Homo sapiens: one gene and its partners. The protein of the gene in region 4 interacts with the protein of the main gene of each other region in a pairwise test. Each region holds a gene or a part of one and is shown on either strand. Other genes may lie near its edges.

Region 1 (3,423 bases), on a different chromosome or scaffold from region 4:
CCTCATTTTATAACTATCCAGCCTCTGCCCATTTTGCCACGGTGCAATGTTGTATGCATTGACTCTTAGGTTTATAAATACATCAGAATGTTCTTTGCTGCCTCGCTTACATGGAAAACTCACAAACCACCTATACAATCCAAAAGAGGGGAAACAGCTCATCTCATATTAATTATGGTCCATTTCCATGATAGGATATTATGCAACCATTAAAAATCATATTTTATCTGAGTGTTAGTATATGGATTATTTTAATTATTTATACTTTTCAGTGTAATTCTTCTCTGAGCATACTACTTTTGGAGTTAGGAACACAAATCAGTAAATGCATTTTTTTTTTTAACAAAAACTAAAGCACCTGGTTTTTTGGAGTATAGTTTCCAGGTGCGCCACAGGCCTTCTGAAACGTTTTCCTTCGGATTTTTCTTTCCCCAGGTGAGCTGTCAGGGAGAAATGTCGAAACAGGTCAAGAGATGTTCTGCTCAGGTTTCCAGACATGTGCCCGGGAGGTGCTTCAGTATCTGGCCAAGCACGAGAACACTCGGGACCTGAAGTCTTCGCAGCTTGTCACCCACCTCCACCGGGTGGTCTCGGAGCTGCTGCAGGGTGGTACCTCCAGGAAGCCATCAGACCCAGCTCCCAAAGTGATGGACTTCAAGGAAAAACCCAGCTCTCCGGCCAAAGGTTCGGAAGGTCCTGGGAAAAACTGCGTGCCAGTCATCCAGCGGACTTTCGCTCACTCGAGTGGGGAGCAGAGCGGCAGCGACACGGACACAGACAGTGGCTATGGAGGAGAATCGGAGAAGGGCGACTTGCGCAGTGAGCAGCCGTGCTTCAAAAGTGACCACGGACGCAGGTTCACGATGGGAGAAAGGATCGGCGCAATTAAGCAAGAGTCCGAAGAACCCCCCACAAAAAAGAACCGGATGCAGCTTTCGGATGATGAAGGCCATTTCACTAGCAGTGACCTGATCAGCTCCCCGTTCCTGGGCCCACACCCACACCAGCCTCCTTTCTGCCTGCCCTTCTACCTGATCCCACCTTCAGCGACTGCCTACCTGCCCATGCTGGAGAAGTGCTGGTATCCCACCTCAGTGCCAGTGCTATACCCAGGCCTCAACGCCTCTGCCGCAGCCCTCTCTAGCTTCATGAACCCAGACAAGATCTCGGCTCCCTTGCTCATGCCCCAGAGACTCCCTTCTCCCTTGCCAGCTCATCCGTCCGTCGACTCTTCTGTCTTGCTCCAAGCTCTGAAGCCAATCCCCCCTTTAAACTTAGAAACCAAAGACTAAACTCTCTAGGGGATCCTGCTGCTTTGCTTTCCTTCCTCGCTACTTCCTAAAAAGCAACAAAAAAGTTTTTGTGAATGCTGCAAGATTGTTGCATTGTGTATACTGAGATAATCTGAGGCATGGAGAGCAGATTCAGGGTGTGTGTGTGTGTGTGTGTGTGTGTATGTGCGTGTGCGTGCACATGTGTGCCTGCGTGTTGGTATAGGACTTTAAAGCTCCTTTTGGCATAGGGAAGTCACGAAGGATTGCTTGACATCAGGAGACTTGGGGGGGATTGTAGCAGACGTCTGGGCTTTTCCCCACCCAGAGAATAGCCCCCTTCGATACACATCAGCTGGATTTTCAAAAGCTTCAAAGTCTTGGTCTGTGAGTCACTCTTCAGTTTGGGAGCTGGGTCTGTGGCTTTGATCAGAAGGTACTTTCAAAAGAGGGCTTTCCAGGGCTCAGCTCCCAACCAGCTGTTAGGACCCCACCCTTTTGCCTTTATTGTCGACGTGACTCACCAGACGTCGGGGAGAGAGAGCAGTCAGACCGAGCTTTCTGCTAACATGGGGAGGTAGCAGGCACTGGCATAGCACGGTAGTGGTTTGGGGAGGTTTCCGCAGGTCTGCTCCCCACCCCTGCCTCGGAAGAATAAAGAGAATGTAGTTCCCTACTCAGGCTTTCGTAGTGATTAGCTTACTAAGGAACTGAAAATGGGCCCCTTGTACAAGCTGAGCTGCCCCGGAGGGAGGGAGGAGTTCCCTGGGCTTCTGGCACCTGTTTCTAGGCCTAACCATTAGTACTTACTGTGCAGGGAACCAAACCAAGGTCTGAGAAATGCGGACACCCCGAGCGAGCACCCCAAAGTGCACAAAGCTGAGTAAAAAGCTGCCCCCTTCAAACAGAACTAGACTCAGTTTTCAATTCCATCCTAAAACTCCTTTTAACCAAGCTTAGCTTCTCAAAGGCCTAACCAAGCCTTGGCACCGCCAGATCCTTTCTGTAGGCTAATTCCTCTTGCCCAACGGCATATGGAGTGTCCTTATTGCTAAAAAGGATTCCGTCTCCTTCAAAGAAGTTTTATTTTTGGTCCAGAGTACTTGTTTTCCCGATGTGTCCAGCCAGCTCCGCAGCAGCTTTTCAAAATGCACTATGCCTGATTGCTGATCGTGTTTTAACTTTTTCTTTTCCTGTTTTTATTTTGGTATTAAGTCGTTGCCTTTATTTGTAAAGCTGTTATAAATATATATTATATAAATATATTAAAAAGGAAAATGTTTCAGATGTTTATTTGTATAATTACTTGATTCACACAGTGAGAAAAAATGAATGTATTCCTGTTTTTGAAGAGAAGAATAATTTTTTTTTTCTCTAGGGAGAGGTACAGTGTTTATATTTTGGAGCCTTCCTGAAGGTGTAAAATTGTAAATATTTTTATCTATGAGTAAATGTTAAGTAGTTGTTTTAAAATACTTAATAAAATAATTCTTTTCCTGTGGAAGAGAAAGATGGTCTCCTGAGTTTTTTAAAATAGCTCACTTGGTGTGATATGGCTGACTCCCATGTCCTTCTTTCTTGGCTGAAGCAAACCAGTTAATCTCAGTGTAATTTCATTCAGCTTTTCATGTGCTTTGTATTCAATCAGAATAAGCTTAGTCAACCTGGCAGGTAAATATTGGTTCAATTTTTGTTTAACCCTTGCCAGGGGTTCATGATCATCCTCTACCTCTTTCCAGAGTTAAGTAAAAAGCATATTTTCCCCTGCCTGCTTTCATCGTGGTCCTTGGAACTTGACAGAAAACCAAGGTATGACACCGTGGGCAGCAGTGTCTGGGGAGCCTGCTGGAGGGAGAGGCACATTGAGAAAAGATTTACTGGATTATTATGCAATACTAATTGATGCTAGGATAGCACCTCTTTGCCAAAGCAGTCTAGCTTTTTCAAATCTAGCAAGGTCTAATGGATTTGCCATATCCTGTCTTATTCCTGCTGGAGGCAACATTCCATAATTATTTTCTACATCCTTCCTGGACTTCCTCTCCGGTATGTTTGTGCGTGAATGCATATTGGGTGTTCCTTCGACAAGTGCTCTTATTTAAAAAAAAAAAAAAAAAATTCCATGGGAAAGGTGGGAAATGACCCTGTCGTG
Region 2 (7,015 bases), on a different chromosome or scaffold from region 4:
GCAAACTTTTCTTCTGTGATACAGAAGAAAACAGATCAATGGGTGGATATGACAAGAGTTGTTCACCAGAGCAAAGTCTGGGCAAGGGTCTTTCAGCAGACCCCAGGTGGGGGGCTCAGCCAAGTCTTTAATAAATGCAGTTTGGATCTTTGTTAATCTTCCTGGAACTCTGAAAGAGTATTTTCTTTTTTTTTTTTTTGAGATGGAGTCTCACTCTGTTGCCCAGGCTGAAGTACAGTGGCATGATCTCGGCTCACCGCAATCTCTGCCTCCCCGGTTCAAGTGATTCTCCTGCCTCAGCCTCCCGAGTAGCTGGAATTACAGGCGCCTGCCACCACACCTGGCTATTTTTATATTCTTAGTAGAGATGGAGTTTCACCATGTTGGCCAGGCTGGTCTCATACTCCTGACCTTAAGTGATCTGCCTGCCTTGGCCTCCCAAAGTGTGGGATTGCAGGCATGAGCCACCGCACCCAGCCTGAAAGAGTATTAGCTATGAACATACCCTGACACCTCTCTTTTAAAAAATTAGAAAGGAGCTTCTCTTTATAATTTTCTGTATAAATGCATTGTACACAGTCCTGATTTCGGTGTTTGGGTAGTGGAGGGAAGATTGTAATTCTATAGATGTTTGTAGTCTACAGGTAAAGGATAATTAGGTAAATATCTGATCTTGCAAGGTTAAGACTGTCATGTTAACATATTTGAATGCGGTCAGATGCTGTTATTGGCAATGTTGTCTTGATTAGACATCATCATGCCCTTGCCTGGTTAGACTGAGGTAGGGCAGAAAAGCAGATAGGGTGGCCACAGCCTCCTGTTGGCAATGGCACGTCTTCACTGACAGGGCTAGAGTGTTCCTAGTTGTGACTTTGCAACCTGTACCAGGTAAGAACGAAGCCAGGACTAGGAGCAGCAGACTGAGAGGAGTGGTCCAGCTAATGGACTCATATTCATTACTGCTTACACTAAGTTCAAGAACTTGCAGAGGAGTGATTTTCAGAAACCTTAGGCATTTATTTGCTAGTCCAGTCTCAAGAAGTTGCTGCAGGCCGGGTGCGGTGGCTCACACCTATAATCCCAGAACTTTGGAAGTGGGTGGATCACCTGAGGTCAGGAGTTCAAGACCAGCCTGGCCAACATGATGAAACCCCGTCTCTACTAAAAAATAAAAAAATTAGCTGGGCATGGTGGCAGGAACCTGTAATCCCAGCTACTTGGGAGGCTGAGGCAGGGAGAATCGCTTGAACCCAGGAGGCGGAGGTTGCAGTCAGCTGAGACTGCACCACCGTGCTCCAGCCTGGGTGACAGAGTGAGACTCCATCTCAAAAAAAAAAAAAAGTAAATTGCTGCATAGGTGAGGCTTAATCTTACTGGGGCCATCACTTGGTCCTGGGTTCTGTTATTTTCTGGCCCAGAAACTAGATTTCCCCAGGGGGAGTCAGGCTTTAGGAATTTATGTCACCTTAGCCAAACTCACAAGGACTATTTGTAAACTAGAATGTTTGTTTTTTCTTACATATATATTGAACACCTACTGAGTGTGTGGTTCTGTCCTAATTTCTGGAGGAAGTCCCAAAGGGGGGTAAAGTCCCTTTAGAAGCTTGTGGGACAGATATGTAAATAAATATGTTATATATGGTGTGCTAAGTGTAGAATGGCCTTACATCCTGGTCTTCTGGAGACAGTCCTGGTTTATGCCTATAGTCCCTGTGTAACTATTAAGAATGCTGTCTTTCACTTTCAGATCTAAGGCCACAGGAAGTGTTCTTTATGGATGTTCGGGGTATAGAAATGATAGAAAGGAAGGACAATGAGCCTGCTTCCCCCTGTAGACACTTGAGCTAAGTGCTGAAGGACGTTCGAGCAGCTGAAGCCTGGGAACTTGGGGTGGGCTGGGGTGGGGGAGGAGGTGTGTTCCAGGAATTCGCAAAGCTCCCTCTGCAGGCAAAGGGAGACTGTTCCCGAAGCAGTAAGCAGTTGGTTCAAGCTAGGCACTGTTTCCCAAATTTACCCTGTGATAACAGTTCCCCAGGACACTTAGTGAACACACAGATTTCCAGACTCTGCTGGCAATTTGGATTTTTTTAAGAAGGCTGGCGGATGATTCTTGGGCATATTAAAGATTGACAACGAGTTCTCTACTCACTGTGGCTAGGAATACAAAAGGATGGGCATAGAGGGGAATGGGAACCGAAAGATTAGAGCACGAGTCACTGATCAGCCAGGCAGGGGTGACCTCAGGCAAGAAAACCTTCAGAGGTAAAACCAGGTGGGAGTTATTTACAGTAGATCATGAAAGATGGGGAGTGCGGGAACTATGTCAGTCACCACAGGGATGCAAAGGAATGAAAAGATAAGAGAACTATTCAGGAGGAAGAACAGGTCCTAGTGTATGCTAGTTACTGATTTGCTGGGGTAATATTATTTCCCAGAAACAGAACCCTGTGTCAAATCCAGGAGCCTGGGGGACTGTAGAACCTGAAGTTTTACTGGGTAAGCATAAACCTAAAACTACAACAGTTGGATAAGTGGTGTGATATATTTCACATGGACCTCCTGCCTAGTTCACTTCTTTATAGTCGCTAGAACACTCATGACAATTTATTTCTGGGAAGAAGCCAGGATGAATTCGAAAGCATCCTGACACCCCACCCCTTTCTTTTCTCTAGACTTCAGGTTAACTCCTGCCCTTCGGTTTTGGTAAAACTACCCTGCCAAGCCTTATCTTGTATTTTGCTCCTGTTTTTGTTATCAAATGTGTAAAACAGTCACGATGAATATACATGCCAACTGCTTTCAGAGGCAACGGTTAGTCTCTTGCAAGTTTCAACGTGCACATTTTGGAGCTGCTGTCTCTGTGGGAACCTGCAGGCACCTCATGGATGCACCACAACTCGGAAATTACAGTACCACCTGGAACACCTTATCCAGGCAAGGAGATCATTAAGCCTGGTGTTTGAGGCAATCGATTCACTTGGAAGAAGGTGCTTTGGTGGTTTTGAGAGGAACAATCCCTACATGAAATCCCTCCATGGGAAATGGAGAACATCAGCTATTTCCCATTGCCTTCAAACCTAAAGATGTCGCCAGGCCTCTTGGCTTGTTACTGAAGCAGCGAAATAAGTCAGAAATCAAAGACTTAGAAGTTACGAAAAGAAAATCTCAAAAAGGAGAATGGGGTCAGGCGCGGTGTCAGGCCTGGAATCCTAGCATTTTGGGAGGCAGAGGCGGGAGGATCGCTTGTGGCCAAGAGTTCAAGACCAGCCTGGGCAACATATCGAGACGCCTGTCTGTATTTTAAATAAATAAATATGGAGAATGGGAAACCCATCAGGCTGTAATCTCACAGGGAATTTAGTACCCTTTACCTAAGACAAGACCTGGGCACTTGGGAAGCCTCCCCGAGTGCGGTTTGGGGAGGGGGAGGGCATCTTAAATTCCAGTCCTCGGTCACTCTTGTGGCTTTGCCAAGGGATTTTCAAATCCCGGGAATGCCAGGGATGGAGATGAACAGGCTGAAATCCCCCACGCTGCCAGGGTTAGGGAGGGGAAAACAACAGTCCACAGCGGCCGCGAAGGTTTGTATTTTTTTTTTTTTGGTAACAAGGGGCTTGTGTGCAGTCCAATATCACCATCGCCGTGAAGTCACAGTGGCAAGATGAAAATGTTTAAAAAAATTTTAAAAAGGAATAAGGAAAGAGGAAGAGGACAGCGTGCCCCGGCTCAGAAAACGGTCCTCCTCTGCCCCGGACGCCGGCGGACCTGTGGGGTATGACCGAATCTCCCCGCGCAGCCGGCAAGCCCCGGCCCTCAGTCGGGCCGCGACCAGCGTGACGCCGCGGTAGGGGGATCCGGCGGGCGCGCGGCCGTCTTCAAAGCCCCGGCGCCGCCGCCGCCCCCGCGCGCGCGCGCGAGTAGTACGGTCCGAGGGGGCGGCTTCTGGGGCGCGGCTCCGGCGGCAGCTGATGCGCGCCCCGCCGGCCGGGAGGCGGGAGTCCGCGAGCCGGGAGCGGGAGCAGCAGAGGTCTAGCAGCCGGGCGCCGCGGGCCGGGGGCCTGAGGAGGCCACAGGACGGGCGTCTTCCCGGCTAGTGGAGCCCGGCGCGGGGCCCGCTGCGGCCGCACCGTGAGGGGAGGAGGCCGAGGAGGACGCAGCGCCGGCTGCCGGCGGGAGGAAGCGCTCCACCAGGGCCCCCGACGGCACTCGTTTAACCACATCCGCGCCTCTGCTGGAAACGCTTGCTGGCGCCTGTCACCGGTTCCCTCCATTTTGAAAGGGAAAAAGGCTCTCCCCACCCATTCCCCTGCCCCTAGGAGCTGGAGCCGGAGGAGCCGCGCTCATGGCGTTCAGCCCGTGGCAGATCCTGTCCCCCGTGCAGTGGGCGAAATGGACGTGGTCTGCGGTACGCGGCGGGGCCGCCGGCGAGGACGAGGCTGGCGGGCCCGAGGGCGACCCCGAGGAGGAGGATTCGCAAGCCGAGACCAAATCCTTGAGTTTCAGGCAAGTACACGGCGTCCCCGCTGAGATGCAGACGCGCTTGCCTCCATCCATCTGCGACTCCCTCTGTGTGCGTGTGTGTGGTCGCCACCCGCGAAACCGTCCTCACGGCCGTGCCGCGTCCCTGCCCGGAGCCGGGTCCCCGTGTGCGTCCGAAAGTTCAGGATCTTCTGTCCTCCCGTGGGGTTTCTGGCCCCCGTTTCGCTAGGAGAGTTCCGCACCCAACCCAGAATCTGCAGTCTCTCCGCATCCCCGCTGGCCTCGGTCACTTTCTCTAAGCTTCGACCCCCAGCCCCCGCCCCTCCACACTGGAGCAACGTCACTGATCTAACCCAGTGCAACTTAGGGCCCCCCCGTGGGGAAGAAGTCGCTCCCCGGCCCTTCCCGGGGCCCTACCGTGTACCCAAAACGCAGCCGCGGTGAAGAAGGTCGCGTGATGACAGGCCCCTGGCAGCTGCTGGGAAATGGTGGTCTCTGCCGGGCTGTCATCCGCGTGATTGCGGAAGGCAGGTGACACCATTCTTAGCCTCGGGCCCAGGGAGTTCCAGCAGGTAGAGGCCTACCGAGCAAAGAGGAATGCCTAGCATCGGCCTAACTCGGGGGTGGGACCAGTATTAATTGTTAAAGCCTCTGGGAAAGGGCTCTTGTGACAAAAGGAGTCTGTTGGAAAAGCGCATTTTTCAGGTGTCTGAGGGAAGGATGACCTCGAAAATAAATGGTGCTGGAGAAAAGCTCCAGGGAATGGAGGAGCTTTCAGAGAGACAGGATGCCAGCCTGAGAAACCCAAGGAGGGCACTGCTCAGAGACCGCAGTTGCCTCCCGCAGGTCAGACCCTGCTGAGGACCGGTTGGTTGTGAAGTTAGACAAAAGTGCTGGACTTTTAGCCTCTGTGAATATGTAGATTTCAAAGGGTGTCGGAAATACCGTTGAAAGTGGTAATTCCTCATTTTTCCTCCTTGGCAGCTCGGATTCTGAAGGTAATTTTGAGACTCCTGAAGCTGAAACCCCGATCCGATCACCTTTCAAGGAGTCCTGTGATCCATCACTCGGATTGGCAGGACCTGGGGCCAAAAGCCAAGGTAAAGAAAAACTTGCATTTTTCCTGCCTGTTTTGTTTCAAAAGTTTTGAAAAATATCAATGAAGGAAGGAAAAAAGTGTAAATTTAGGACCATTTAAGAGAGTTTGACTAAGAAAGAGCTGTTTGAAACCTCCTGGCTTATGTATTTTTAGGGGTGTGGTGATCGAGGCTTTCTCCTCTGAGTAGAGTTTGTGCATTTGCAGTATAAGATTATCATTATCAAACATTCCTACTAGGCCTTTCTCCTCAGCCCCTAAAAAAATATGTATAGTAATGAAGTAGGAAGATCATGTTTATATTTGACTTCACAAATTCCTCAGGCTAAGTTGCTTTCTACTGGGGTGTGGCTGGAGACAAAAATTACAGGTAAGACTTGACTTAATTTTTGATAGGGAGGTTCTTAAGAGGCTTTTTCGGAATCACTCACCTCGCCCACTTCCATGCAGGGATGTGGTGAGAGCCCTTCAGTCTACTTAGGAAAACCTGGCACATGGATTCCCTCCCAGCCCCTCAGAGCCCAGCCCTTCATCTGCAGGAGCTTCCGTTGTCTCACTTAATTAGTAGAAACCTTTTTTGTCACACAGCCAGTTCAGAATAAAATTTCACCTATCCCAACAGAATTCATATGCTTATTTACTAAATAGAGTGCACTGTGATTCAGCAGTGAAGTCCTGCTCTCTCGAGCTAACATTGTGGAGGGAGAACCTGTGAAGGGTTAAGCAAAATATCTATGTCAGCTTGTGTGAAGCACTGTGGAGAAAAATAAAGCAGGGGAAGAGAATAGGGAATATGGAGTGGGGATAGGGAAGGCTGAAGGGGAGTTAGTGGGGGCATTCATGATTAGGTGACTTGAACAGAGACCTGAAGGCAGATTGAGGGAGCAGGCCTTGGAGGTTCCTGAGGTGGGAACCCTTCCAGCAGAAGGAGTGGCATCTGCAAAGGTCTGACAGCACCAGCCTGCTGCAGGGAGGCCGTAAGGTGGAGGGTTCATGGTACAGTTTGAGGACCAGCCAGGAGGTCAGTGTGGACTGACTACTCAGAGAGCAGGAGGAGCTGAAGTCAGCGTGGTCAGAGGAGGTCCAGATGCTGCTGCAGTGAGGATTTGGTTTTCAGTAAGGTGGAAAGCCACTGGAGGGCATATGCATTTCCAAGGGCTGCCATAACAGAGTAACTTAGCGGCTTACAATAACAGAAATTATTCTCTCACAGTCCTGGATAATTGAAATCAGAACCAGAAGTCTCAAGTCAAGGTGTTGGCAGGGCCTTGCTCTTCTGAAGGCTCCAGGAAGTCTGTCCTTGCCTCTTCTAGCCTCTGCTGGGTGTCTGCAATCCTTTGTGTTCTTTGGCTTGTGGCAGCAGAACTCCAGTCTCTGTCTCAACACATGGCCATCTTCTCCCTATGTATCTGTCTTACCGTGCCCTTCCTGTGAGGACAC
Region 3 (6,894 bases), on a different chromosome or scaffold from region 4:
GAAGACTGGAGTCTAGTAAACTAGGGGTGGGAGATTTAAAATGAAAAATAAAACGAGTCAGAGGAATGGTAAGTTAGTCTTTTAAAAACCAGGAAAGGTATGTACGCAAAAGCAAGAAGTAACAGAGAAATGAAAAAAAAAAAAGAGTAAAACCGTAAACAAAAAAGCAAACAACTACAACAAAAAGAACAGGTCTCAACAGAGAGAAAGGCATGTCATATCGATTTGTATTACATCTACATGTTATGATAGCATAAGTAGAAATATACTAAGTCTAGTAAGAGTGTCTTGATGACTTTTTGAACCATCTGTTCACTTTTTTTTTTTTTTTGCTTTTGGTCCTTGGATTAAAGAAGCCTCCAGGTATGTTAGCTCTTCTCATCCCTAAACATTGCAAAACATTCATCAAAACAAAGGAAGATGGAGATGACCAACTTCTGCACTTTATCTTGATTCCCAGTCCTCCATTTATCTATCAGTGTCCTCTGTGGTTTAAGAAATCAAGGACATCGCTATCCTGAGAAGCTAGGGACTGGGATTTTGGGCAATGGTGGGACCTCTTTTGGTTTGACTTACGGTGACCTTTTGCCATCACTGCTGCCTTGCCTACAAGAGTATCTTGGAAAAGGACATATCTAGCTGCTTCGCGATCAAGGAGTGGGCTTTAGAGGGCCAGAAAATGCACAATATTATGGAAATTTGATGGGAGGTAAGAAAACAGAGAGATGATGGTAATGGTGAATATTTCACTCAAGGAGTCTCCTTTCCTAAAATGCTACTGTGGGAATGGGAATCAATATTAGTTGGCATACCCCCATTCTCTCCCATTTGTTTTCCATTAATCAAACCTTAGAAGTGTCTGCCACCCACATTGATGGAGAAACAGATGGTTTGCTCATGCTGTTTCCCTTGCCCTGAACAGGAGCTGCCCTCTGTTTATATCACAACCCAAATCTTTTCACCATCTGCATAGAGGCTTCCTCCCTTCCCCAGGAGAATTAATCTTTCCTGCCCTCCATAGACCTCCCATATGGGAAAATAACTAACACTTGCTGGGCACTTACACAGTATAGCTCAATAAGCTTTCACAAAACATTATCTCCCCAAATCCTTACACTACCCTTGAGGGATTATTATCACTGGTATAAGACACAAAATCCATGACTCAGAGAAATGGCACTTTCTCAAGGCCACACTCTCTGAGAGGTCAGGGAGGGAGTCCATCCCAACCCGAGCCCATGCATTATGGTGCCTAAAGTGTCAGCATGTTCCACCAGCTAGCATCAAACAATTCCCCCAGATAAATCTTTTAACCATTTGGTTTATTTTTATTATGTTTCTAAAGCAATCTGTGCTGTTTTGCGCTAACACCAATACAGTACTTGGCACCTAGTACAGGTTCCATAAATATGTGCGGAAGAGTGGGTGCTTCATGTGTGATAGTCACTATTGTGAATGTTACTTGACTCTGTGGTTTCATATGAAGGGGCTCCAGTTTTGGATTCAGAGCAGGTTCAAATCATATTCCTATTAATCATGAGTTGTTACCTTTTTTTTTTTTTTGAGCCTAATCTGCAAAATGGGAATAACCATCTCTGCCTCACTGAGTTGTTATTTCACATGTAACATACTGTGAAGTGTCTGACACAGTGCCTGGCTCAGCCTCCCATCAACGCTGGCTAGTAATAATTATAATTCATACAGGCCAGATGGTCATGTAAACAACTGGAATATAAGCAAAGAGTGTTGTCCCTACGCCAATCGGAACCACCATAATTTGTGGGACAGAGCTTCAAAGGAGGTCTTCGGCCTCATACTGCAGCTTGGCCAGCCTCTCCCACCCACCTCCACCCACACCCCCAGCCCCCAGCCCCATAGGAAGGCGCTTAAGAAGCTTAGATCCCAGGGGAAGTTGAGCCTCCGATCGGGTGGCAGCGCGTGGGGAACCCAGGCTGCACTACAGAGGACGCAGGACGCCAAAACCACCCCGGGGCTCACGCCATCCGCGCACCGGCTCTGCTGCCTAAGTCCGAGGACGCAGGCGGAGGGCGCGGGGCTCCCGGGCGCCCAGGAGGGCGGTGCCGCCGGGGTGCGCTCCAGGCTTGGCTGCAAACCCCCCAAGAATTAGAAAGCGGGGGCGGCTGCTCAGCGGCTGCTGCGGCCTGGGACTGCAGCTCGCCCCTCCTCCGCAACTTCCCACTGGTCCCGTCACCTGGCTTTCTGTCTAGTGTCCGCCCAGGCGGGGTCCCAAGAAGGCGATGCCAGGAGCAGTCGCGCCCCCTGCCCTCTGTGAGCCCGCAGGTTTCGGGCAAGTTTGGCTCAGTCCTTGTCGATGCTCCAGGCTCGGCTTCCCTGGCCTCCCCTTCCCTGGCCAAAGGAGATGATGGGAAGCCTGAGGTTCTGATCTGGGATAACTGCAGAAACCCCCGGGTAGGACTTCAGCGCAGACGGGACATTTAATGATGTTGAGAAGGGCCTTTCCTCAGTTAGCCCTCAGCTCCCAGGAGGGCTACCCAGTTGGTGCACGGTCTCATTTTATTTGGGGATGCTGATTTAACTGTGTGTGTGTCTGTGTCTGTGTGTGTGTGTTTGTGTGTGTGTGCGCGCGCGCTTCGGTCCTTCATTCTTTGCTCCTAAAGATTTCTTTAACAATGTTGAAAATTGTTTTGTTTTTTTTTTCTTACTTGAAGTTCCTTTTGATTAATTTTCAAGCCGTGGGTATTATGCAATAATATACATAATAGTATATATTCTGTATTAAATATTTCTCATTGCTACCCGACCTGTCATCAGTTTAGAGCCTTGAAAAAAATCTCCATTTTAATATTAACACAAGGTTTTCCCATAAATTTGTTTTGAAAAGTTAGGGAGAGTATACTAACTAATGAACTTCAGTTAAAAAGTAGGCAAATGAAAAAAAAAAAGAAAAAAAGTAGGCAAATGCGAATGTTCTTCACTGCCACAAAGCCACCAAGTTAACGGATGGTGTTTATGGGTTTGGGTTTTTGGAGAGCAACTTTACAATACCTGTAGGATTGTCTTGAAAGTCAGGTTCCGATCTTTAGCCTAAGAAGGTTAAAAAGTTGGTAAGTTATATTCTTTTCACCCTTAACAATAACTGACCCATAATGCATTAGCAATCTGTCCCTAGATTGTGAGGAATCAGATAGTTAAAATTAAATTTAGAAAGTTAAAATACTTGTCATCACATTAAAAACACATTACATCAGTTTAGATGAGCTGCAAGTAAATCATCCCTTACCTTTCAGAAGATAAAAAGTTTAGTGACTGCTATTTACACACTTTGAATATTTTATATTACAGTGGTCATCATCATTTACACGGATTATTTTCTATGTCCACTTCCAATTCACAAATATCAGGGTGTTTGTTATGTAGCAGTTCACATTTCAAGCTTCTCTGAAAAGGTGTCCTTATATAAAACAACAGAGATAACTGCATATTATCAAAAGGTCATTTAGAGATTTTAAAAATAAAATCATTAGGGACCCCTTAAGAAAAGTAGAGCAATGAACTGTAATTTTAAAAATGTATATAATAGCACAAAAATCAAAGTCTTAATGGACACTCATTTGAGATAGTTCATTTTGTTTTTGTTTTGTTTTAAACATAGATTTCTAGAGCATTAAAAACAATCCTCATAGGTTTGTTAAACCTTTAGCGGAAGATTACAGCCCATGTTTTTGTCTTTGGTGAATAGCTGTTTGTCTCACTTTATTTACTTGGTATTGGATATTTGTCAATGTCATTTCATATCTACAGAAAATTCTTACGCTCTGTGGAGGTAGTGAATGTGTGTGTGCGTGTCTGCCGGAGGTCACATGACGGTTTCATTCTATTTGGTGGAGCAGCTTGACTTTTTTTCCCCTTGCTTTTGGTGATGGTTGTGAGTGCAGAAGTTGATTGACAGATGCATGCCAGAAACCCCCATTCTCCTTTTCAAAGACAACATATGATGGATTGCTATCTCTCAGCGCAGCAGGACACGGGGACCATGCAAGCTGTAATTGGTCAGGTATGGAGTCAGCCATTTCTCAACTCCCCTTTTTTCCACAAGGGTCTCACCATATGATTCACATAATTCATATTTACAGTACCATCTTTCTATCTGTATCTTCAGCTACCTGCCAGTGTAGTGCTGAAAGTGCGAAAGGCAAAAGGCACCCATTAAATCTGACCAGGGAAACCTCAGCTTAAAACTTCAATGCGATCCTTTTAAACAAAAACTAAAACAACAACAAAAACACTGGAGAATAAATCTAATTTATAATTTGGTCTGAATGTTTCTTAAAAATCTATTTTAGAAATTTGCTTTCTTTTTGGATTTTGATCTCTGAAAGAAAGTGCGAGAAGAGAATCAAGTGTGGTTTCCTAGGTAGTAGTTAATATTTTTCTAATGCTGTTCAATATTTTTATTTTGACTGTGCTCTCTCCTTCTCTCTTTCTCTCCCTCTCTCCCTTTCTCCATATGGGAAATATAAATATATAAATACATGTGCCTTGACTTCTAACCCAGATAATGTGTGATTGAGCCCGGTAAATGTAGTAGTAGTCTTGGCTGCTGCAGAAGGGCAGGCTGCAAATTAAACACTGTCACAATCTTGAAAGGTCCAGGTGGTCTGCTCGCGCTTCCTAATGCAATCCAGCACAGCAGCTTTAATAAACAGCTCCATTTAGTGCCTCCTCCTTGTATCTAGGGAGGTGAGCTGGTCTGGGGCTGCTGTGATGAAATGCCAGAAGAATATCTCTCAGAGGCCTCACAAGCTGATTTTTAGAGCTTTCCCGCTCTGTCGTCTTTGTCTTCCAAATGGGTCAGTGAATCTTGCTCTTTCTGTTTGGTGCTTTCCGTGAAGTCAGTAGTTTATGTTTGTGTTAAAATGTTTGCGTTGTAAGCTAAATCAGAAAACGAAAAGGATCATTGTATTTTCATTTGCCTTCAGATAACTAAAGTGGTGGAAGGAAGGATAGTACCCTCCTGCAAAGGGAGGGTGATTTTTCTGACTATGATGGGGGTGGGGTAAGGAAAAAGGAAATATACATGGTTTCTTTTCTTTTTTGTAATGTATTTTTGACTAAATTTTTCTAAGTTATCTATGTTTACTTATGGATTGTTAACTCATAAACCAGACTATGGTCACGAATATTTATAAACTCCTAAAAGTTTTTTTTTTTGTACACTTTCCAATCAAGACAAGCTGGCAAGGCAATGACATAAAATTTGTTTGCTTTATGTTAATAGCATGGTGGAAAATATATCATCTTATTCTGTTTTCAACAAAATTATAGAAAAGCACTTCAGGGTTCTGAAAGCACATGGTTTATTAATACCAGCATGCTTGCTTCATAATGTATTTTTAGATGGAAAATGTCAAATACATAATACCATGTTTTCACAGGCTCACACTATTTTAAAAGAAGTAGATATTTGCTTCGACAGAGAAATATTTTTTAAAACTTTCAAGTTAATTTTTGTTCTATAAGCATATATAAAGTGAAGTCTCTAGGCAGGAGAAAATATATAAACTGATTTTATATACTCTTAATACCTGTTTCAATGTAAGTACTCACTGACGAGCAAATATATCAAATATAGCTAAAATAATTGTGGTGTAGGGAATGAAATAAATATCTGTTACAATAGATGACTTTTGCATATTGAAATAAAACTTGAGCCCCTGATCACTGTCTTGTCCTGTTTAATAAAACTTTTCTTAGGTTGCAGGTCCTGTCTTCTGTATGGCATAGTTATGGTTCTTAATACCGTGCAGAATTACTGTACTTCAATCTCTAATAAGAATAGGATTTCCTTTTTCTATATATTTCTGGTGAAAAAATCAGGAAAGTCACTTGTAGTTTGTTATTCAGTATTGTTTATTGGAAATCAATTGTAAAGGCATATACTTTTTAAAGGCTCAGGTATATACTTAAAAAAATGAATCAGGACATATTTTTACAGATAGTAGGCTTAACTTCTAATTTGTCAGGATTTAAAATTAGTTATTATTACATAGCTCTGTATTTTGTATGTACTCTTTAGTATAATTGTTAAAGGTTCCACATGTCTAAGAACTCTACAGGTTAATGACTTCTTATGAATACATTGTAAATAGTTGCATCAAAGTAGTCACATGCTTTCTGAAGGTGTTATTTCTCATAATTTGTTAAAAACGCCTCAAAATGCCAAGTCAGTAAATTACAAAAGCAATTGTGCTGAAGGTTGTAAACATTTCTGTGCTAAAATGTACAAACTAGAATGCTGATTTTTTATTTGAAATTGAAACAGTAAGTATTTAAAAGGAAAGAAGAATAGAATATTGTCCTATATGTATACCATAAAAGTCAGAAAGTCTATATTGAAACCATATCTAGAAATATAAAAAAGAAAGGTGGTATACATATTTGAAGTGGATTCATTTCAATAGTTACAGCACAGATAAGTGTATTTACTCAAATGATTACTTCTAACAATAGGGAAAAGAATGTGAAAATAATTTTTATTGCTCTGCTGTCACTCAAAACCAGAAAGGGATGGTTTATTTTTTAGCTCTTGTCTTAAATATCGTCTTATATCTACTCAGCAGGTGTGAACAAGCCCATTTAATAATGCAAATGTTTGTGTTTGTTTCTGCTCAAATACGTTTTGGAATAATTATTATTTTTGTCTTTTTTTTTTCCTGTTCTGAGTGCTGTTCCTAGATGGCTTTGGGTTGGAGGAGCAAATAACCAGTTTTCAGTCAGAATATTGAAAGATTCCCATGAAGTATGAGCTTTAGGTTTTTTCATTCACTCCTAGGATGAAATATCCACAGTTGCTTCCACTGTAGGGAAGAGTAGACTTTTCTGTTTCTGGCCATGATCCAGCTCAGGACACAG
Region 4 (7,273 bases):
ATTCTTACTGATACTTTGTAGGTGGAAGAAAAAAAGCTCCTACCCCTGAAAGATACACCAAAAAGGAACAACTGCACACAGTGACAATAAGGACATGTTTCCTGGATGCTAGAACTAAGCCACATCACCACTAGCCCTAGAAATACTTTTCCAGCAGTCTGTAATCACAGATTTATTCTAATGAACTAACCACTTTTGGGTCACCAAAGATGAGCCAGGCCGGTCCTGGGAGTGTCTAGCAAGCATCATTTAAAGTCATAATGATGAAAACTAAATCTCGCTTATTTTAGCTCCTTGCCACTGGGCTGTCCAATTGGCACTGAGTTGACACAGCAGTTAAATTCAACCTCAAAGCAGCAAGAAGGCAGGCACTTCACTGTCCTGGTGGGAAGAGCCAGGCAGGGGCCTGTGGAGGGCACCGTTTTAGATGGGCCTTTCCAACCCTCCCTTAACATTCATTTGTGCAAACAAAAAATGGAAGAAAAGGAACCAAAATTAAGTTTCAGGTGGTTGGGGAAGCAGCATGGATTTACATTATTATTATTATTATTATTATTATTATTATTATTATTATTATTGAATAGTTAGCAAGTGTTTCTCAATAGTTCCCTGTTCATCAACACTGTTTTCAGGAGAAATGGAAAACAGTAGCTCTATTTCATAGAAAGTACAGCCATTTCAAAAAAAAAAAAAAAAGTGGGGGGGGGTTGTTGAGAGAGGGAAGTGACCCATGTCATAAAGACAGAAGGTCTCCAAGTCACTTAATTCCTTGTGATTCTGAAAGGGCTGTTTTTAAAGTCTAAAAGTGCTCGCTTCTGCATCTGCTCCATGTTGTTAAATAACACTTGTGTAATTAAATAAAAGAGCCAACTGTGACCCCAGCCCACTCTGAGAGGCACTTTACATGCTTTCTGAAAACTATGCTGGAAACACCATGAGGAGAACTCCTTAGTCCTGTAATTTAGCAAAGGGAGAGAGAAAAAGTTTCTTTTGGCCATCATAGCTACACACTCTCTGAAAGGGTGCCTGCAGGGTCTCTGCAAAACAGAATGAACACAAATACAGGCGTGCAAACATCCAGGTATGTACCTCTCTGTGAAGACCCCATTCTTGAAACCCTTCAATTATTTGGAACCGTGGTCTCCTGACTTCCCTCACACCTCACTTTTGCCTTCATTGTTTTTCATGTTTGAGTAGCAAGAGGGATTCAGAATCTCAGGCTGCCAGTGGCTGTTCTGATAACAAGGAGCAGACTCATGTTTCTTGCTACGGCCTTTCTTGATCAGGTTACCTTGGAAGGTGTATGTTTTCCTACCCAATGCAGTCCCCACCACAGCACTCTCGTGTCCTCCTCCAGCCCAGCCTCCTGGAACTCGTGATTTTCAGGGTTTCCCTTGAAACCTATCCAGAAACCACAGCCATTAACTGAACGTGAAGATTTGACACCTCCTGAATTCAGGAATGAGGGAACTCGAGGGGCCAACTCTACAAACTCGCACCTGCTGCTTGACGGCAAGGAAACAGAGTTTCCCCAGCTAGGGTGAGCTTTAAATTATACACTATTTATTTAGTGACTTGTCTCCAAGGATCTCAAAGCATAGAGAGAAATAAGATGATGTGTAACTTTCTCACAATCTACCTTCAAGGCTTTGCCCTGGTGCATTCTGACAAGCAGGACCCAGTATGAAGGAGAGGCCTTCCTTCTGTGCCCAGGCAGAGCCATCTGTTCTCTCTGGGGTTTTCTGTCAGTGGCTTTAGGGAGTCTTCAAGGACTGTTAAATGACACAGAGGGTGGGGGGAGGGATGACCCTCCTGGATTCACCTGCTCACGGCTTTCACTTAAGCCAGTTTAACACAGGAGGTACCACTGTGCCACGCAATTCCCTCTTAGCACACACCATGCGTGAGCTGCAGTCTTTGCCCTCCAGGCCTTTTCCTATCATAACACAGGTGTGTCCAAGGCAGAAAAGAACATTTTCCAGAAGGTTCGTTTCCCTCCAAGCCTACAATGCTTCTTTTTGTTGTTATTGTTTTTCTGCTACTGACCTAAACATAGGCATTCCTCCTCCTAACAGGATAAAAATCTTGACTCTCTCCTTTGCATCAGCTCCCCACCCCGCCCCTGCCCAAGGAAATAAATGCTCTGACTTTTCCAAGAGTGCGAAAAAACTAAAATTAGAGGGTGGACAAGATGATCTCCAAAGGTGCCCTCCAGCTCCAAAACTCTGATTCTCCCTTTAATTACTCCACAAGCGCATTCTTCACATTGTTTCGAACTGACCAGCGACTTCTCCAGGGCTGAAAAGGGTGCATTTTTAGGCGGAGGCACCCAAACTTCTAAATGACACCAGTACCACAAGTATTCAGAAGGCAGGAACTAATCCAAAAGCAGACTCAGGAAAGGAGGAGGGAGGGGAGGACAGAGGGAAGGGAAGGAAGGAGGAAGGAAGAGCTTTACTGTGTGCCCAGCAGAATTTAGGCGCTCTCACCCTAGGTAGGTGGCAACTGGAGTCTGGGAGTTCAAGTGCATCCAGCCTGCCCTTCCCCCACACGCCCCAAGAGAATGGGAAGTTCAGCCAAGACTCGCAGCACCTGCCCGCGGCTCCAGGCCGGCTGCGCGGACCCGGAGGGAGGCTGCACTCACCTGGCACACCAAGCCTCCGCGCACCTCCGGAGGGAGGCGGCACTTGCAGGTCCGGGGGCCGCGCCGCCATGCGCAACAACGGGAAATTCCAGTGGCACCCGAGCCCCGAGCTCACCCACCCCAGGCGGCATGCTCCCCACCTCCCGCTGGCCCCAGGACTCGGAGGTGGCTCTGGTCAGGAGCAGGGGGCCCGGAGACAGGGGAGGGGAGCTCATGGTGGCGGCAGGGCTGGCGGTCGGCCCGTCCCCGGAGGGAGGTCCCCGGGACGCGGCGGGGATTCACCCACGGGGCGCGGCGCTGGCGTCCGGGTCCCCGGCCTGCCCGCCGCCGCCGCCTCCTCCTCTGCCGCCGCCCGCCCGGAATCGCTTTATGTAAATGAAGCCCAACTCGCAGTTTGCAGCGCGCACCGCCCGGGGAAGGGGGGCGGGCGGGGCGGGGGGCCTTCGGGGATCCACATTACACAGCAACAAAGCGGAAGGTTAATTTGAAACTCACAGCCCCGCTGCCGCTCGGCTCCCCGGGCAAAGCCTGACATCTACAGTCGTGCCGGGCGCAGGCCGGGTTGCTCGGCGGCGACCGCGCCCGCCCGCCCGCAGGGACCCGGGGACGCACAGGGACGCGCGGGACCCGGGCGCTCAGCTGCGCTCGCTCCGCTTGGGGCGCGGGCCTTGGGGCAGGCCGGGGGTCCCGCGCACCCGCCTGGGGCCAGGAACCCTCGCCGCTCGGCCTGCGCCGCCCCGGGAACCGGCCCCGGCGGGAACAAAGCCCAGGCCCTCCCGGAGGCGCTGACCCCTCGCTCATCAAAGGTCAGGGGCCGGCCTAGAATCGGGCGAGAAGAAAGGGACGCGCCCTCGGCCACTAAAAGGAGCCTGAGGCCTCCGAACCGGAGCCATCGCTCCCTGGGCCCCGTCCACGTCACAGCCAGGCCACTCAAGCATGGGGACAGGAGCCAATGTGGACAGGAATTTATTGGAAACACACACCCATCCTATTAACTGCTTTACAGAGCACTTCTGTTTTTCAGTTGCAGAAACTTATAAAAACATCCCCCTGCTCTCCGTTGAGAGTTTAAGGATAGTTTTTGAGGCCAGAGAAAGAGAAAAGGAGAGATCACTAGAAAGATAGGAAGAAAAGAAGTGGGAAGAAAAGGAGATGCAGTCTACCATGTAAGCCTCCAGGCTCCTTAGCCTCACCTTATAAAGCCACATCACCGCAGAGATAGCAAAGATCGTGCCCTTTCCCAGGGAGTTCCTACCGCCAGGGTAAGATTTAAAGCGGCCACCCCAGTTGGTCAAAGTGATTGCTGGGCGCCTTTCTATCTCCCCAAGTTCACCTTTTCCAGTTGGTCAAAGCGATTGCTGGGCGCCTTCTATCTCCCCAAGTCCACCTTTTTCCATTCTCATCTGAAAGCCAGCCCCAAAGAAATCTCACCGGAAGTCCTCTGTCCTCCCTGTCAGAATCCCACCCTCAGTCTGAATTTACTCCCGATTCTCACAGCACAGAAAGGCACCTGCTTTTACCCTTTCTGAAAACCACCCACCCAGGCTGGCCTTACAGCCTGGAGAGTCTTTTCCTCGGGCACAATAATGAACCATGCAAGTGTTAGAAATATAATCAGCTCATGAGGCGAAGAGCAGTATGTATGGAATTGTATTAGCATGAGGCACACACTGACTCGGGAGAAAAAGGGATGCTTAGCTGGTGAAAACCATCACATCCCCGTATAGAAGGCTTTTTGCACAATGTAAGTTGGGTTCAGATTAATGTAAGTATCTAACCTGTTGGGTACAGACAGCCCCTTTCTACATTTTAGTCCAGAATAGATTCTGGGGAAATTTATTTATTTATTTATTTATTTCAGCTAAGGCCCTGGGAGAAAAGACTGCCTCCAGGGAATCATGTCCGATTAGGGACAAAGGAGGGCACAAGCCCAATTCAGTCACACGTGAGAGCACGGGGGCCGGGTGGGGGGAGTTAAGAGCCAACAGGGAAGGTGGAGGATGAGTTTGCAAACCAGACTATGGTCACTGCAGAGCTGCTTCCAGACCACCTGACTTCAGGCCCAAGAACAGGTGGTGTTTTCAAAACACACTGTTATTTATATTGGCCATATAAGTTGAGAACACCTTAAAGAAAACAATTAATAATTTAATTGAAAAAGTGACTATGAATAAGACATGAAGATGACGTATGCTAGCAGGACCGCAAGCAACGTGGCCCACAACGCAGAGATGCCTCTGGCAATCTCTCCGGAAAAACGAAGATTCCTTACCTGGGATAGGTAAGGCCTGCTGGATAAATTAAAGACAACAAGAAAATGTTGATACTCTCAGAAAATCTAATTTTGCTGCTTTATCTTCATTTTTATTAACAGGGGACAACCTCGTAATCTGGTGACATCATGATCCTGGTAGGCCCACAGACAAATACCTTCAATAAAATAAAAGCTAGAAAGCCCAAAGAACAAGCTATTAAAGTAACCTGGGAGGATGCAGCACTGCCTGGGCAGAAGGCCCGGACGGGATCTGCCCTAATACTGCCACTGTCCCAAGAGGCAGACCCTGCAACCTGCCTCCTGCACTTGAGAGGCCTGACAAGTAGAACTGAGAGTGACCCTGAGTTCCTTTTCTTTATCTGGCACCAGCTACACACATGATGAGGCCTAGTCAAGCCTGCCTTTGTTCCAGGCAAAAATTTAACAGGTAATCCACAGGCAGGTGATCTATGGCCTCTGTACATTATGGAAATGAGGGACTACACACAAGCTGGGTGTCACCTCTACTAAAACTCATTTTCCTTATTCATAAAAACAATACCTCTTCAGAGGGAATTGGCAACTTCTGCACTTACATATGAAATCAGGAGTTCCTCTGAAATACTCCTTGCAAATTCTATCCTCCAGCTCTGGAAGCCCTGGCTCTTCGGAGGGCAGCTGCCTGATGTTAAACCCATGGCCTACCCAGCAGTGACAGCCTGACATTCTCATCGCTCCATCCTGAACACTGCTGACAAATAAACCCACTCTCAGAAAAGGCAATTCTTCCCTCGCAGTTCTCCATACCCAGTCTCGTCTCATCTGGAAAGCGTAATTGGCAACAGCCGAAAGGATAAATATTTAAAAATAAATCAGGGAGCGCTAACCCCTTCCCTACTCCTCCCCTTACCCACTCTCCAAGCCAGAGGCCTGCCCCCTAACGCTGAGCTGGCTGGTAAATTACAATGATTCTACCGAGCCAAACCTGCTTGTCTCTCTCTTTCTCTACACATACACACTTACTAATGCTGTATCCTTCCACTTTTGCAAAGGTAAATATGATCTCTAAGATACAGTGGATGTCAGCATTCTGACTTCCAGCGTAACCTGGGCTCTCTTTTCACAGTACAGCGGGTTTAGACAGATTTGTGCACCCTTCCGGGTTCTTCTATTTTTATTAAATTATACGTATACATTGATTTTTAAAACTAGTGCTTAAATAACCCGGAGGCTTTAACAAAGAAAAATCCAGAAGAGGGCAAGAAACAAAAACAAACGTTCCTGAAATAAACAAGGAACCATTTGGAGCTGAATTGGCCTGAGTTCACCCCATGATTTTGAGGCAGTTATATTTAGGGGCCTGGTACCCGCTGGGTGGCCGAGCCCTCCTGGGTATGGAACAGAATGCAGAAGTTCCTCAGAACAGCTCACATTTGCCTTCATAACCATTGGAAGCTGGTGTGCCAAGGCCTGCACACAGATGTTTTGATTCACATTTTTCTGCTGAAGCCTCAAGGCCTCCATCCATCCCTACAGTGCTAATTCCATAGATTAATTTTTACCCCCAAATCGTAGGTGGAACATTATCTAATTTCCTTACCCACCCTCCCCAGCTCAGGTGCTAAATCTGTCAATGATATCCCACAACAAAGATACAAATGAGTAACCATTTTTTAAAAGCTGTGATTTCGGAGAGTTTTTCTAAATTAATTTTAAGTTACAAAGCCCCAAGTTTTAAGAAAGCCAAAATACAGAAGTTGCCTTAAAACAGCTTTACATGTTAGGTAAAGAGCTCTCTCTCTCTTTCTCGCTCCTTCTTTTTTAAACAAAAATATTATTTCTGAAAGGGCAAAGGGAATTTGCCATGCAAGACTTTTAAACACAGGGGGATTCTTACATTTGTGTTTCTAAACCTTGAAATTGAGAATTTTAATGAAAAGGCGGACAGATGCTTAAGGACAGCATCGCAATCTGGGTCCATACATTACAGGAGAGAGAGGCGCTTTGTTTGGGGCCAAGTAAAAAGAGGTGGGCTCCTATTTTGTTCATAGGCCATTCCCACCGTCTGACACATCCCTTTACAGTCGGTCTGATGCTAACCACTGAATTCTTGGAGGGGAAGCAGGTTGGAAGGAGAAGAAAGGAAAAGGGAAACAGAAGAGGAAAAGAAATGGGCGATGGGATACTGCCTGTTTATACAAATTGTAGATTTAAAAAAAAAAATCCCAACACGGTATCCATTCCATAGTATGTACCAAAAGCACTTTCACACGTGAGTTAAAACGATCCATTAAATGCTATATCGAAAGTACAACAACCAGGGTTGGAGTTTATTTTTTTTTTTTAATGAAGAATTCATTGAGGTTTGCAGTTCT

What was found.
Region 1: the proteins of ZFHX3 (region 4) and BHLHE40 interact in binary tests that used the Homo sapiens proteins (3 or more experiments, as listed by UniProt).
Region 2: the proteins of ZFHX3 (region 4) and TACC1 interact in binary tests that used the Homo sapiens proteins (3 or more experiments, as listed by UniProt).
Region 3: the proteins of ZFHX3 (region 4) and POU6F2 interact in binary tests that used the Homo sapiens proteins (3 or more experiments, as listed by UniProt).

Annotation. Positions count from the first base shown.
Region 1 is NC_000003.12:4,982,401-4,985,823, forward strand, and holds the end of BHLHE40 (class E basic helix-loop-helix protein 40), read left to right. Parts: intron 1-435; coding exon 436-1,292; 3' UTR 1,293-2,923; downstream 2,924-3,423. UniProt on the Homo sapiens protein: Transcriptional repressor involved in the regulation of the circadian rhythm by negatively regulating the activity of the clock genes and clock-controlled genes.
Region 2 is NC_000008.11:38,783,241-38,790,255, forward strand, and holds the start of TACC1 (transforming acidic coiled-coil-containing protein 1), read left to right. Parts: upstream 1-3,995; 5' UTR 3,996-4,316; coding exon of another isoform or gene 4,317-4,342; coding exon 4,343-4,503; intron 4,504-4,865; exon of another isoform or gene 4,866-5,006; intron 5,007-5,463; coding exon 5,464-5,579; intron 5,580-7,015. UniProt on the Homo sapiens protein: Involved in transcription regulation induced by nuclear receptors, including in T3 thyroid hormone and all-trans retinoic acid pathways. Might promote the nuclear localization of the receptors.
Region 3 is NC_000007.14:38,974,023-38,980,916, forward strand, and holds the start of POU6F2 (POU domain, class 6, transcription factor 2), read left to right. Parts: upstream 1-3,886; 5' UTR 3,887-3,931; coding exon 3,932-4,036; intron 4,037-5,872; exon of another isoform or gene 5,873-6,894. UniProt on the Homo sapiens protein: Probable transcription factor likely to be involved in early steps in the differentiation of amacrine and ganglion cells. Recognizes and binds to the DNA sequence 5'-ATGCAAAT-3'. Isoform 1 does not bind DNA.
Region 4 is NC_000016.10:73,045,108-73,052,380, forward strand, and holds the start of ZFHX3 (zinc finger homeobox protein 3), read right to left. Parts: upstream 3,022-7,273; 5' UTR 2,715-3,021; coding exon of another isoform or gene 2,645-2,714; exon of another isoform or gene 2,471-2,644; intron 1-2,470.